Homo sapiens: one gene and its partners. The protein of the gene in region 3 interacts with the protein of the main gene of each other region in a biochemical or structural test. Each region holds a gene or a part of one and is shown on either strand. Other genes may lie near its edges. The genes, in order: SLC15A5, EZH1 and PDZRN3.

The links.
Region 1: the proteins of PDZRN3 (region 3) and SLC15A5 interact in a test that uses a peptide from one of them, tested with the Homo sapiens proteins (one large-scale study listed by IntAct).
Region 2: the proteins of PDZRN3 (region 3) and EZH1 interact in a test that uses a peptide from one of them, tested with the Homo sapiens proteins (one large-scale study listed by IntAct).

The regions. Positions count from the first base shown.
Region 1 is NC_000012.12:16,243,173-16,246,826, reverse strand, and holds part of SLC15A5 (solute carrier family 15 member 5), read left to right. Parts: intron 1-1,803; exon of another isoform or gene 1,804-1,996; intron 1,997-2,026; coding exon 2,027-2,247; intron 2,248-3,654. UniProt on the Homo sapiens protein: Proton oligopeptide cotransporter.
Region 2 is NC_000017.11:42,710,413-42,714,066, reverse strand, and holds part of EZH1 (histone-lysine N-methyltransferase EZH1), read left to right. Parts: intron 1-677; coding exon 678-858; intron 859-1,581; coding exon 1,582-1,778; intron 1,779-3,654.
Region 3 is NC_000003.12:73,397,842-73,401,495, reverse strand, and holds part of PDZRN3 (E3 ubiquitin-protein ligase PDZRN3), read left to right. Parts: intron 1-486; coding exon 487-574; intron 575-3,654. UniProt on the Homo sapiens protein: E3 ubiquitin-protein ligase. Plays an important role in regulating the surface level of MUSK on myotubes. Mediates the ubiquitination of MUSK, promoting its endocytosis and lysosomal degradation. Might contribute to terminal myogenic differentiation.

The DNA of each region.
Region 1 (3,654 bases), on a different chromosome or scaffold from region 3:
AATAAGATTGCAGGTATCAATTTGTCATGTATTAGAAGCAGATCCAAGTTTATCTTGCAACAAATAGTGATTGTTTATACAAAAAAACGGTTAGTGAGTTTAAAATATATTATATTTAATACAAATTCCTGAATTTTAAAAATTGGGGGGAAACTGGGGAAAATATCTTTGGAAATAATCTTTCATCCTGCAAGTACTTATCATTTAATAATCAAACCTATCTGAAAGCATAAAGTTAATTTGGATCAGTGTTCATAATAACCCTACTATCTACCCAGCACCACTCTGCAAGAGTTTAGCAGAGAACAGGTTGATGAGTAATAGAGACAAGATTGTAAGGAAATGTCAGGAAGTTAAGCCACCCAGCCCAGGCTTGTTCGAATTCAGTCTCCAGACTGTTCATCAACACATTCTCTGTTCTCATCTTACCTAAACCTTAAGTAAACTAATTGAAATAGCTAGGAAAGTCTCATAATAGAGCAGTTCATTCTCTAATAATAAAGAGCAGTCCCTATTACTTCTTTCCTAAGAGAAACAAATCTTGGCCTCTCACAGTGGCTTCTGTCTTCTTGGCCTTACCAGTACCTGGGCCTTCATCTACTTCAGGCAATAGTGACTAAGAAGAGACAAAAGTGACCATAGATATAAGCCTATCTCCTGTTAGCAAGTATCCCAACATACTCCCAGATGACCTAAACACACTTCACAAAGGCCACCAAAGAGCCACAGCTGTAATCATTCTTGGTCACTACCAATTTGGGCTGGATTTGATTCAGTGACTTAGAGGTGAAAGGCTCCATATTCAATTACCAGGCCCCCAGCTTCCTCAATTAATCAAAGGCTGACATAATGGGTCTATTACAACTCTTGAAGAAAAGACCAGATCAAATCAATCTAACCACTTTATAGCTATAAAAATATATTAATACATATTCTTTATTTAAACATAAAAACCAAGACTCTATGGCATATAAATGAATTTCATTAGAATGCATTTTATCTAGAATTTTATTATAGGAAACTTGAACATAATCAAAATGACTTTCAAACTATACTTTGAGTTTCTATAGCAGCCTTCTTTGGAGAAACACAAACATTTTCACATTTATTATGCCATTTACCTGGCAACAGTAGTTTGGTGTCTACGTAATTTCTGGGGGGATTTATCTGGTCAAAGGGAGTGCTATGAAAACCTGTAACTATCATGACAGCACAGCTGAACTGCTGCCTAAACGGGGGTCTCTTATCTGTCATTGTATCAGGAAATCCTAATGGAGTCAAAGAAAAGGTAGGAACTAAAAGATCATAAAAGAAGCAACAATGAGGTTGCAAATCACTAGCAGTAAGTGACTGCTGCCATCTGAAGCAATAAAGCGCTTCTGATCGTGCAGCAACAGCCATGTAAACCTAGAAGAAACTACTGGAAAAGTCAAAAGCCAACTAATCTAATCTGAACTCTTAATGACACTATCAACATGCATAAAATCATTTAGAGAGTTCATAGTCTAACCTTATTTCTAAATCCAAGGATAAAGTCAAAGCAGAGATTACATTTCCCTTCATCTCCATGTCACAATAAGAAGCCACCCTCTACCTGCCAAGTAAAATGAGGATTATTTATATAATAATTTATATGAAAAAATAGTACTAGTTCTTTGTGTTAAGGATGTTAAAGAAAGTTCAGTTTATTGTATTCATTAATGCATTAAAGTTAGAGACTTCTGAGAGATTCTGAAGTCCTTAACTTTGGCGTATTATTTTGTCACCTTTCTTTCCCTTTTAATATGTTTTCATTGATCTTACCTTTTACACTTTTGACATCAACTGCTAGGTGCCACCATGGGCTGGTCATCAGGATGCCAGAATCACTGTCAGAAGCGTGGTCCTTTGAGTCCGACCCCTTGGGTGCTAAAAACTTTCTCACTTCACTGCCGTGAATCCTTGAATCGTTATCTTTCTGATCAGCATCTTGAAAAACTGGAGAACAATTCCTATACTAATACATAATATCTCCGATTACTTGCAGGTTGTTCTCTCCTGACAGGCGTTGGGGTGTTGGTTAGTGCACTGAAAACATGCCACCCGCAATACTGCCATCTTGGCAGAGACGTGACAAGCCAGTTAGACCATGCCAAAGAAAAAAATGGTGGCTGCTACAGTGAGCTCCATGTAGAAGACACAACATTTTTCCTCACCCTTCTCCCTCTCTTCATTTTTCAGCTCCTATACAGAATGTGCATTATGCAGGTAAGGACAGGCGATGAGTACTACCCCAACAACAGGAAAGTGATTGCATGTCAACAGTGCAAGTCAAGGTGAATTTTCTCCCCAACGAGCGCTTTCCATATATGTCGGCAGGCAGTTATCCCCACAGAAACTTCTCATCATTACAGGCTCTGATTTCCAGAGCTAAGCGGGGTCAGGCAGAGGTATACCTGAGGAGACCCTGGGATGTGTTTCTTTTGTGGAGCTATAAATGTCTGTCAGTAGGTGCAGACAGTACTTCAGAATGCATAGTCGTAAGGCGTAAGAGCAGTGCACGAACATATCAGATCTGTAGGCAATTACCAAACTTCCCTTTAGCCAAAGGTTTTGCCTTCCTCCCTCATTAAACCTTTAGAAAGTGGTACTAACGAGTAGCTAAACTGACTGATTTGAGTACCACCTCCACTGTACTCTTAAATATAAGTACTAATGAGCAAGTGATTCTCTCCCCACCCACTCTATTAGTTCCTTGGGGAATTCGTTCCTGTGCTGTGAGAAAATCAAGAGAAAATACAAAGCCCAAAGTACCTTTTATAGATATATGTGATTTTAAATTTTTTTAATGTGGTTAGAGTTAAAGACTAACTTATTTACTGAGAAAAATAAATGATTACAAAAGTATTTGAACAAATCTGGGACTTTGTTCATTGCTAACTCCCAACTTGGAATTTAGAAGACTCATGAATGAGTTACATTTAGAAATCATAGAATAATAGAGCTGCAACAAAATTTAGAGATTAACTTCATAAACTACTTTATTTGTTAAACAGGAACCTTAGGCTCAGAAAAATTAAGTGACTTTCTTTTGGTAGAGGTGAGGCACCGTAGGTCACAGTTAATAGTAGTGTAAGGGAAAGCGGAATCTGTCCTCTGCCTCTCAGTACAGTGCTTGCCCCTCTAAACCAGGGGTTAGCCATCCACTATCTGAAGGCCAAATCCAGTCCACTATTTTTGTACATCCTGTAAGCTAAGAAGATTTTTACATTTTTATATGTTTGAAAAAAATTAAAAAAAGAATAGTATTTTCTAGCACATGAAAATTATATAAAATTTAGCCCAGCGTGGTGGCTTACACCTGTAATCCCAGCACTTTGGGAGGCCGAGGCAGGCAGATTACCTGAGATCGGGAATTCGAAACCAGCTTTACCAAAATGGAGAAACCCCGTCTCTACTAAAAATACAAAATTAGTCAGGTGTGGTGGCCATGCCTGTAATCCGAGCTGCTTGGGAGGCTGAGGCTGGAGAATCGCTTGAACCCAGGAGGCGGAGGTTGCGGTGAGCAGAGATCATGCCATTGTACTCCAGCCTGGGAAACAAGAATGAAACTCCATCTCAAAAAAAAAAAAAAGAGAAAAAGCAAAGAAAAATATATAAAATTTAAATTTTAGC
Region 2 (3,654 bases), on a different chromosome or scaffold from region 3:
TAAGTAGTAAGATTGTACAGATTAAGCATTACACATTTTATTAAGGAAACAGAGAAAGTGTGGTAGACTGGAAAGAATAGTGGCCTAGGGAGACAAGGAGCCCTGATTCCTATACCCCTCTGGAACTATTAGCTGCATACTCTCAAGCTAGTTTCTTCCCCTCTCTGAATCTCATTTCTTCATCCATAGGAGAATGTGTTCTCAAATTCCAAACAAGTAACACGCAAGTTAATTTTAGATACAACTCACTGGAAAATTGAAGACACAGATGCATAGATTATATCTTTTTTAAGATTATAGGACATTAGCTGGGCATGGTGACATGTGCGTGTGGTCCTAGCTACTTGGGAGGCTGAGGCAAGGGAATCACTTGAGCCCAGGAATTCGAGGCTGCAGTGAGCAGGCCTCTGCACTCCATCCTGGGCAAGAGAGAGAGACCCTGTCTCAAAAAAACAAACAAACAAAAAAACATTATAGGACAACTCTTTTGTGAAAAAGTACGTAAGTTTTGTTAAGCAGCTCTCATTGTTATATGATCATACTTATTATATGGTACAGAGAAAAAGAAAAGACACTATTATTGTAGACAGATGTTGTAAAGATGAAAGTTTGTGATGATGAGATCAATATGGTGATGGGCCTGTTCCTATTTCCTGTCTGTAATGTGTCCACTGCAGGAAGGAGCAAAGGAGTATGCCATGCTCCACAACCCCCGCTCCAAGTGCTCTGGTCGTCGCCGGAGAAGGCACCACATAGTCAGTGCTTCCTGCTCCAATGCCTCAGCCTCTGCTGTGGCTGAGACTAAAGAAGGAGACAGTGACAGGGACACAGGCAATGACTGGGCCTCCAGTTCTTCAGGTACGATGAACAGAAAATGAAGACTTTTTCTTTCCATGCAAGGACTCTGGTAAACCCAGGATCACTGCCTGACACTTAACTTTACTACCTCTTAAAAATTATAAATTCTTTCTACAAGTTTTGTAAACAGTAAAGATGGGGAATATTTTCTTTTTTTTTTTTTTTTTTTTTGAAACAGTCTCTCGCTTTTTTGCCCAGGCTGGAGTGCAGTGGTGCTATCTTGGCTCACTGCAACCTCCACCTCCCAGGTTCAAGCGATTCTCCTGCCTCAGCCTCCCAAGTAGCTGGGATTACAGGTGCCTGCCACCACGCCCGGCTAATTTTTATATTTTTAGTAGAGACGGGGTTTCGCCATGTTGGCCAGGCTGGTCTTGAACTTCTGACCTCAGGTGATCCGCCTGCCTCGGCGTCCTAAAGTGCTGGGATTACAGGCGTGAGCCACCCTGCCTGGCTAATTTTTGTATTTTTAGTAGAGACAGGGTTTCGCCATGTTGCCCAGGCTGGTCTTGAACTCCTGAGCTCAAGCAATCCACCCACCTCGGCCTCCCAAAATGCAGGGATTACAGGCGTGAGCCACCATGCCTGGCCTAAAGATAGGGAATATTTTCATTCCTAACTGTTCTACCTTTTAAAGTAGAATGAAGTACTTCTGAGTTTGTGACAAACTACTGATGACAACTGCATTCTACCTTCTTCTGATTCTGTTATTTCTTCCCTTCTCAGAGGCTAACTCTCGCTGTCAGACTCCCACAAAACAGAAGGCTAGTCCAGCCCCACCTCAACTCTGCGTAGTGGAAGCACCCTCGGAGCCTGTGGAATGGACTGGGGCTGAAGAATCTCTTTTTCGAGTCTTCCATGGCACCTACTTCAACAACTTCTGTTCAATAGCCAGGCTTCTGGGGACCAAGACGTGCAAGCAGGTACCATCTGGAAGCAGCAGAACAAATGGGCCCCTCCTTTCACGCATTGCTCTGTCCAGCCCTTTGCCATCTTACCAGGCTGTGTGTCTGGGTCTGGAGAGAAGTTGTCTTAAGTTCAGTCCCTGATGAGCCTGTGCTTCTGTGAGTTTCCCAAACATGGCCCTTCTGCAAGTGCCAGGCCTAATGATGTTTGGGGACCCGCCTCCTCCTTGCTGAATGCTCATTTCTGTCTGGACTCTATTTAATGCTTCTGGGTCCTACACTCTTTCGCTTCTTTTTTTTGGCTCTGGCCTCCTTTCTAAATGTGTACCCCTTTCCCAGAAGGGACTCCCAGGTCTTTCTGTGGCTCTTGTTAATGAGCACACTGCTGCTGCTGCTGCAGCTGCTGCAGCTGCTGCTCCCTCCACCACTCCGCCAGCCTCTTCAGTCATTTTATTCTCCACATTTTCTATCACTAGATTATCTTTATTTTGTCTTTGAGACAGGGTTTCACTGTGTCGCCCAGGCTGGAGTGCAGTGGCATGATCATAGCTCACTGCAACCTCCGCCTCCTGGGCTCAAGCAGTCCTCTCCCCTCAGCCAAGCAAGTAGCAAGGGACTACAGGTGCAGGCCAGTATGCCCAGCTAATTTTTTTTTTTTTTTGAGACAGAATCTCGCTCTGTTGCCCAGGCTGGAGTGGTGCAGTGGCATAATCTTGGTTCACTGCAACCTCCGCCTCCCAAGTTCAAGTGATTCTTCTGCCTCATCCTCCCAAGCAACTGGGATTACAGGTGCCCACCACCACACCCAGCTAATTTTTTTTGTTTTGTTTTTTTGAGATGGAGTCTCGGTCTGTTGCCCAGGCTGGAGTGCAGTGGCATGATCTCAGCTCACTGCAGCCTCCGCCTCCCAGGTTCAAGTGATTCTTCTGCCACAGCCTCCCAAGTAGCTGGGATTACAGGTGTGCACCACCACGCCCGGCTAATTTTGTATTTGTAATAGAGACGGGGTTTCACCATGTTGGCCAGGCTGGTCTCAAACTCCTGACCTCAGGTGATCCACCCGCCTCGGCCTCCCAAAGTGCTGGGATTACAGGCATGAGCCAATGTGCCTGGCCATTTTTGTATTTTTTTTTAGTAGAGATGGGGTTTCACCATGTTGGCCAGGCTGGTCTCAAACTCCTGACCTCAAGTGATTGGCCCAGGAAAAGACAGGAAAAGACCACAGTGAGAAGACAGACTGAAGAACAGGGACAAGGAGGCAGCTGTCAGGGCCAGCATGTCCAACAGGAAAGGAACCCCAATGCTTTGGCTTCCTACCTTCTGGAGGAGACTCTGTGGCCTCTTCTTCATGCTTCCTGTACTGAGAACAATTAATAGAACCATGGACTGGGCAAGGTGGCTCACACCTAGAATTCCAGTGCTTTGGGAAGCCATGGTGGGAGGATCGCTTGAAGCCAGGATTTCAGGACCAGTGTGGGCAACAAAGTGAGACCCCATTTCTACAAAAAAAAAAAAAAAAAAAAAGCCACGTACCTGTAGTCCTAGTACTCAGGAGGCTGAGGTGGGAAGATGGCTTGAGCCCAGGAGTTCTATACTACATTGAGCTATGATGGCACCACTGCACTCCAGCCTGGCCAAGAGTATGAGACCCTCTCTCTTAAAAAAAAAAAAAAAAAACAAACAAAAACAGAACCATGAGCTGAAGTGCCCTTTGCTTTCATTTTGGAGCTCATACCTATTTCCCTGATCACAGGTTCTCAACGTAACCATCTATGGATTTGTATGCAAGAATGTTCTTGTCTGTATTTTCCTGAGAATAGTTACAGTTTTCAAAGATCCCCCACAAAGGGCCAATAGCCCCAACAAAGAAAAGGAAAAACTAAAAACCAGTGCT
Region 3 (3,654 bases):
AAAGACACGGTCCTAGGTAACAGCAGAACAGTTTCATTCTCAGCCTTTTGAACTGATCTCAGAGGCCAGCACATATCTTAGACTGTTGCCTGGGCTCGAGCCTAGTTCTCTGCAGAGATAAAATCTAACAATGAAGCAATAAGCAGTAAAATATTGTCCTGTTTCCTGCGTAGAGATGGAGTTAGAAATCAGTCACGCTGAATCACGTGACTGGCAGGCTCCGGGATGGGCTCTGCAAACAACAAAGCCCATCAGGCTTGCACTTTGCATCTTAAGTCCTTCAGGAGGAAATGTACTAAAGGCAAATGGTAAAATTAGGATGATGGAGGTCCTGACCGTGCTGAGAGCCCCATCCAGAGGGAAGTGAGTCATGAAAGGGCCCACACCCTGGGAATTGCTACTGTGCCACTGGCCTGACAATGGGTGTAAGAAAAACAGATACTGACAACGGAAGAAGGGCTGTAAAGATGTTGCATCTCTTTTCAGGCATCCCTCAGCCCATGAATACTACGATCCAAATGACTACATTGGAGACATCCATCAGGAGATGGACAGGGAGGAGCTGGAGCTGGAGGTATGAAGAACATCCTTGTCTCATTTTAGGAGTCATTATTAAGAACACAGAATGCCTAATAAGTTCTCTATAAGCATAAATTAGTTTACGGATGCCGATGGAAAGTAACAAAAGCAGAACCACTTTTACTGATGCCCTTTGAAAGGCACAACTGAGATTCTTCTTCCTTCCTTGGAAACAGAGCTTAATAATCAAGTCCCAAAAGCAGAAATGTAAACTTTTTTTAATTTGAATCACTTAAAAGTTAGGACAGTAAATCCTGTTGTCAACCTTTGAATCCACATAATCCATACATTCTTGTAACTAACATAAGCCTCCTCACCTTCCTCCCTTTTATGTCATCACCACTCTTTACTCAAAGGCAGATGGCTCAAGAGTAGGTGGATAAATTACTTGAGTGAATGCTAGCCCGCCCTAACAAAAGGGTTTGTTCACTGCTTCACTTGCTTCAAGTTTGCTAACATTGATACAGAAGAAATTAAACAAGTCTGCAACTCTTCTTAAGTGTTATTTGAGGCCACACAGGAATAAAGATTCAAGATGCTACATAATGTCAAATAGGTCTCTGTTAAGGTTTAAAATATTTAGAGGACACCAGGTTGCCAACAGAGTTCTACTTCCCATTTTCCTTTTATTAAGGGTGATAGAAAATACAGAAAACACTAACTTGTATAATATATTTATATTTTGGGGAAAACACTTTTATATTTCAATGGGGTTTCAAAAAATATAACAGCATTTTTGAAAGCTGATTTTATGGAATAAGGTAAAAAGACACCTGATGTTGACAGGTAAGCCCTTGGGTACCATCAAAAGGTCACCCAGGAAAAATCGAACATTTTATCCAATTTCATGGCTAACTGTTGTGTAATCTATGCTGTCCTACCAATACTTCTGAAGTTGAATTGTTCAGTGGCAGTAGGTTCTGTGCAAGGACAGAAGCAGTCAAATAGTAGAAAACAGCTATGTTCCTCAACTTAAAGTTACCAAGAGTTCTCATTCCAAGACAGAAGTTAAAAATCAATAATTGTGTGCAAACGATGACTTCACTGATGGTTAGCCAGATACAGTCAAATCAAAGGACTTGTTGCCAGTGGCATGACTGACTCTGTGCCAGTTTTCAGAAATTTAAAATTTTCCCTAAATGCACCTGGTCTAAACAGCAATGGCCAGTATTCTCACTATAAAAACTTGACTGTTTCTGCTTGCTGTCAGCCACTTACCAAAGCGCTTGCCATTTAACAATTGTTCCAGAAAATGTAGTTTTGTCATTTTCAAAAATCAGGATTCTGCCTCTTATTTAGTGTCCTATCACCCCAGCTTCAGGGCTGTTTGGTGAAGCAGCCGTGACTCCTTCAGGACACTTGTTCCTTAATTTGTTATGTATGTTCCTTCCAAAGGGGGTTCATAATGAAATACATTTGGGAAATGCCAGACTGAAGACAACGAAACAGATTTCTTGGAGGACTTCTGAGAATCTTGACTATCTACCTAGAATCCCCTGGGGGAGTGGGCAGAATTTCCCCCACCTCTCTGGCCAAGTACCTGTTTATATTTCCTCAGTCTACAGTTCTCTGGAACACTGTTGGAGAAACACTGCTCTCCAAACAGAGGGCTATTTCGTAATCTTTATGGGACGACACTGCTTTTTGATGATGTAATTGTGGCAAAGTAGAGTTCTTTTAAAAAGCTGTAAAGTGTTTCAGAAGCTAGAGTTATGAAGTAGTAGAGACTTTGTAGTCTTTGGTATTTAGTTAAACTTGACTTTGTAGCAGTGGGTTCTTTAGTTCTTTTTTTAGTTTCTAATACCTTTGAGAATCTGATGGAACCTACAGCCCCCCGCTCTGGAAAAATGCTCCTGTCTGTGAGAGCTTGCATATGGTTTCAGGAGATTCACTGAGCCCCCACAGTATCTGCCCAATTTGGGCCATTCTGCCTTACAGTTTTTCCTTATACCTGACTATCACCAGAACTCTTACGTGCTTTCTATTTCTCTTTAATTCGACTCAACTTATTTAAACTACGGTAATTTTATTTTAAAGGAAACACTATACCACTGCGTCAAGCAGAAAGTCAGCATCCATTGCCTTAAATAGAAAATCCCATACAATTAAATACAGTGGACACAAGCCAGTGTTATTTATTAAATCCTGGTGCTCAATAAGGGTGCCTGCTGAGGGTTGGGAGCCTGGGGCCACTACATCCTGCCTTTTCTCTAAGGAGATTAGCTAGTATTAAAGAAGTGTTAAGACTAGCCCAGACTGAGTCTTTCTCCTCAAAGCATGAAGCACCTGAGAGCATCCTGCTTTCAGCAGGAGGGAGCCACTCAGAAACTGTTCCCTAGAACCCTGTTGTTCAAAGTGTGGTAGGAGGACCAGCAGCCTGGCTGGTCAAAGTAGAGTTCTCACCTAGGAGATGTGGGAACTACAGAAACTTGGCCCCCTAGATCTTCAGAATCAGAATCTGCACTTTAACAAGGTTCCTAGGTACCTCGGTGCCCATTAAAGCCAGAGGACCCCTGACCTACAGGCCACAGACCCAGATAAAGCAGCCCAAGCTATCATTTCCTCTTGTTCTCTTGAGTCACACCAGCGAGGCTTTTGTGGTGCCTTTCATTCACTGCAGTGTCGAGATGTGCCGCCAAGTCACGAATATTGTCCACACTGTCCCTGCAGTGTAACATTATCAGGGCCTAGGAACGACTGAGCCCCTCGTAGGCATGTGACACTGTGTTCCTAAGACTGCTTCTCTCTTTTCATGAATAAAAGCAGACACAACGCAGGTGTTTAGAAAACTAGTCTGGTATTAATATTTTAAGCTAGACCTTGGATGCCATCAGACTTTATATTCGTGTTTATTTTCAATTCTGTTCATTTTATTGTCTCTTACATTAAATATACTGTTTGGCCCTAGAAATGCAAAATCACGAAGTCACCACTCTGCCTGCCCTTAAGGAGCTCACAAGCCATTAGGACCATTAGACATTAGCTTTTCGTTTCTTCTTAAACAACCAGAATAAGGGCATTCTCCATCTCTAGCCCCTTTGAATGGTTACCCTAGAGTACTCTGAGTCCATAGCA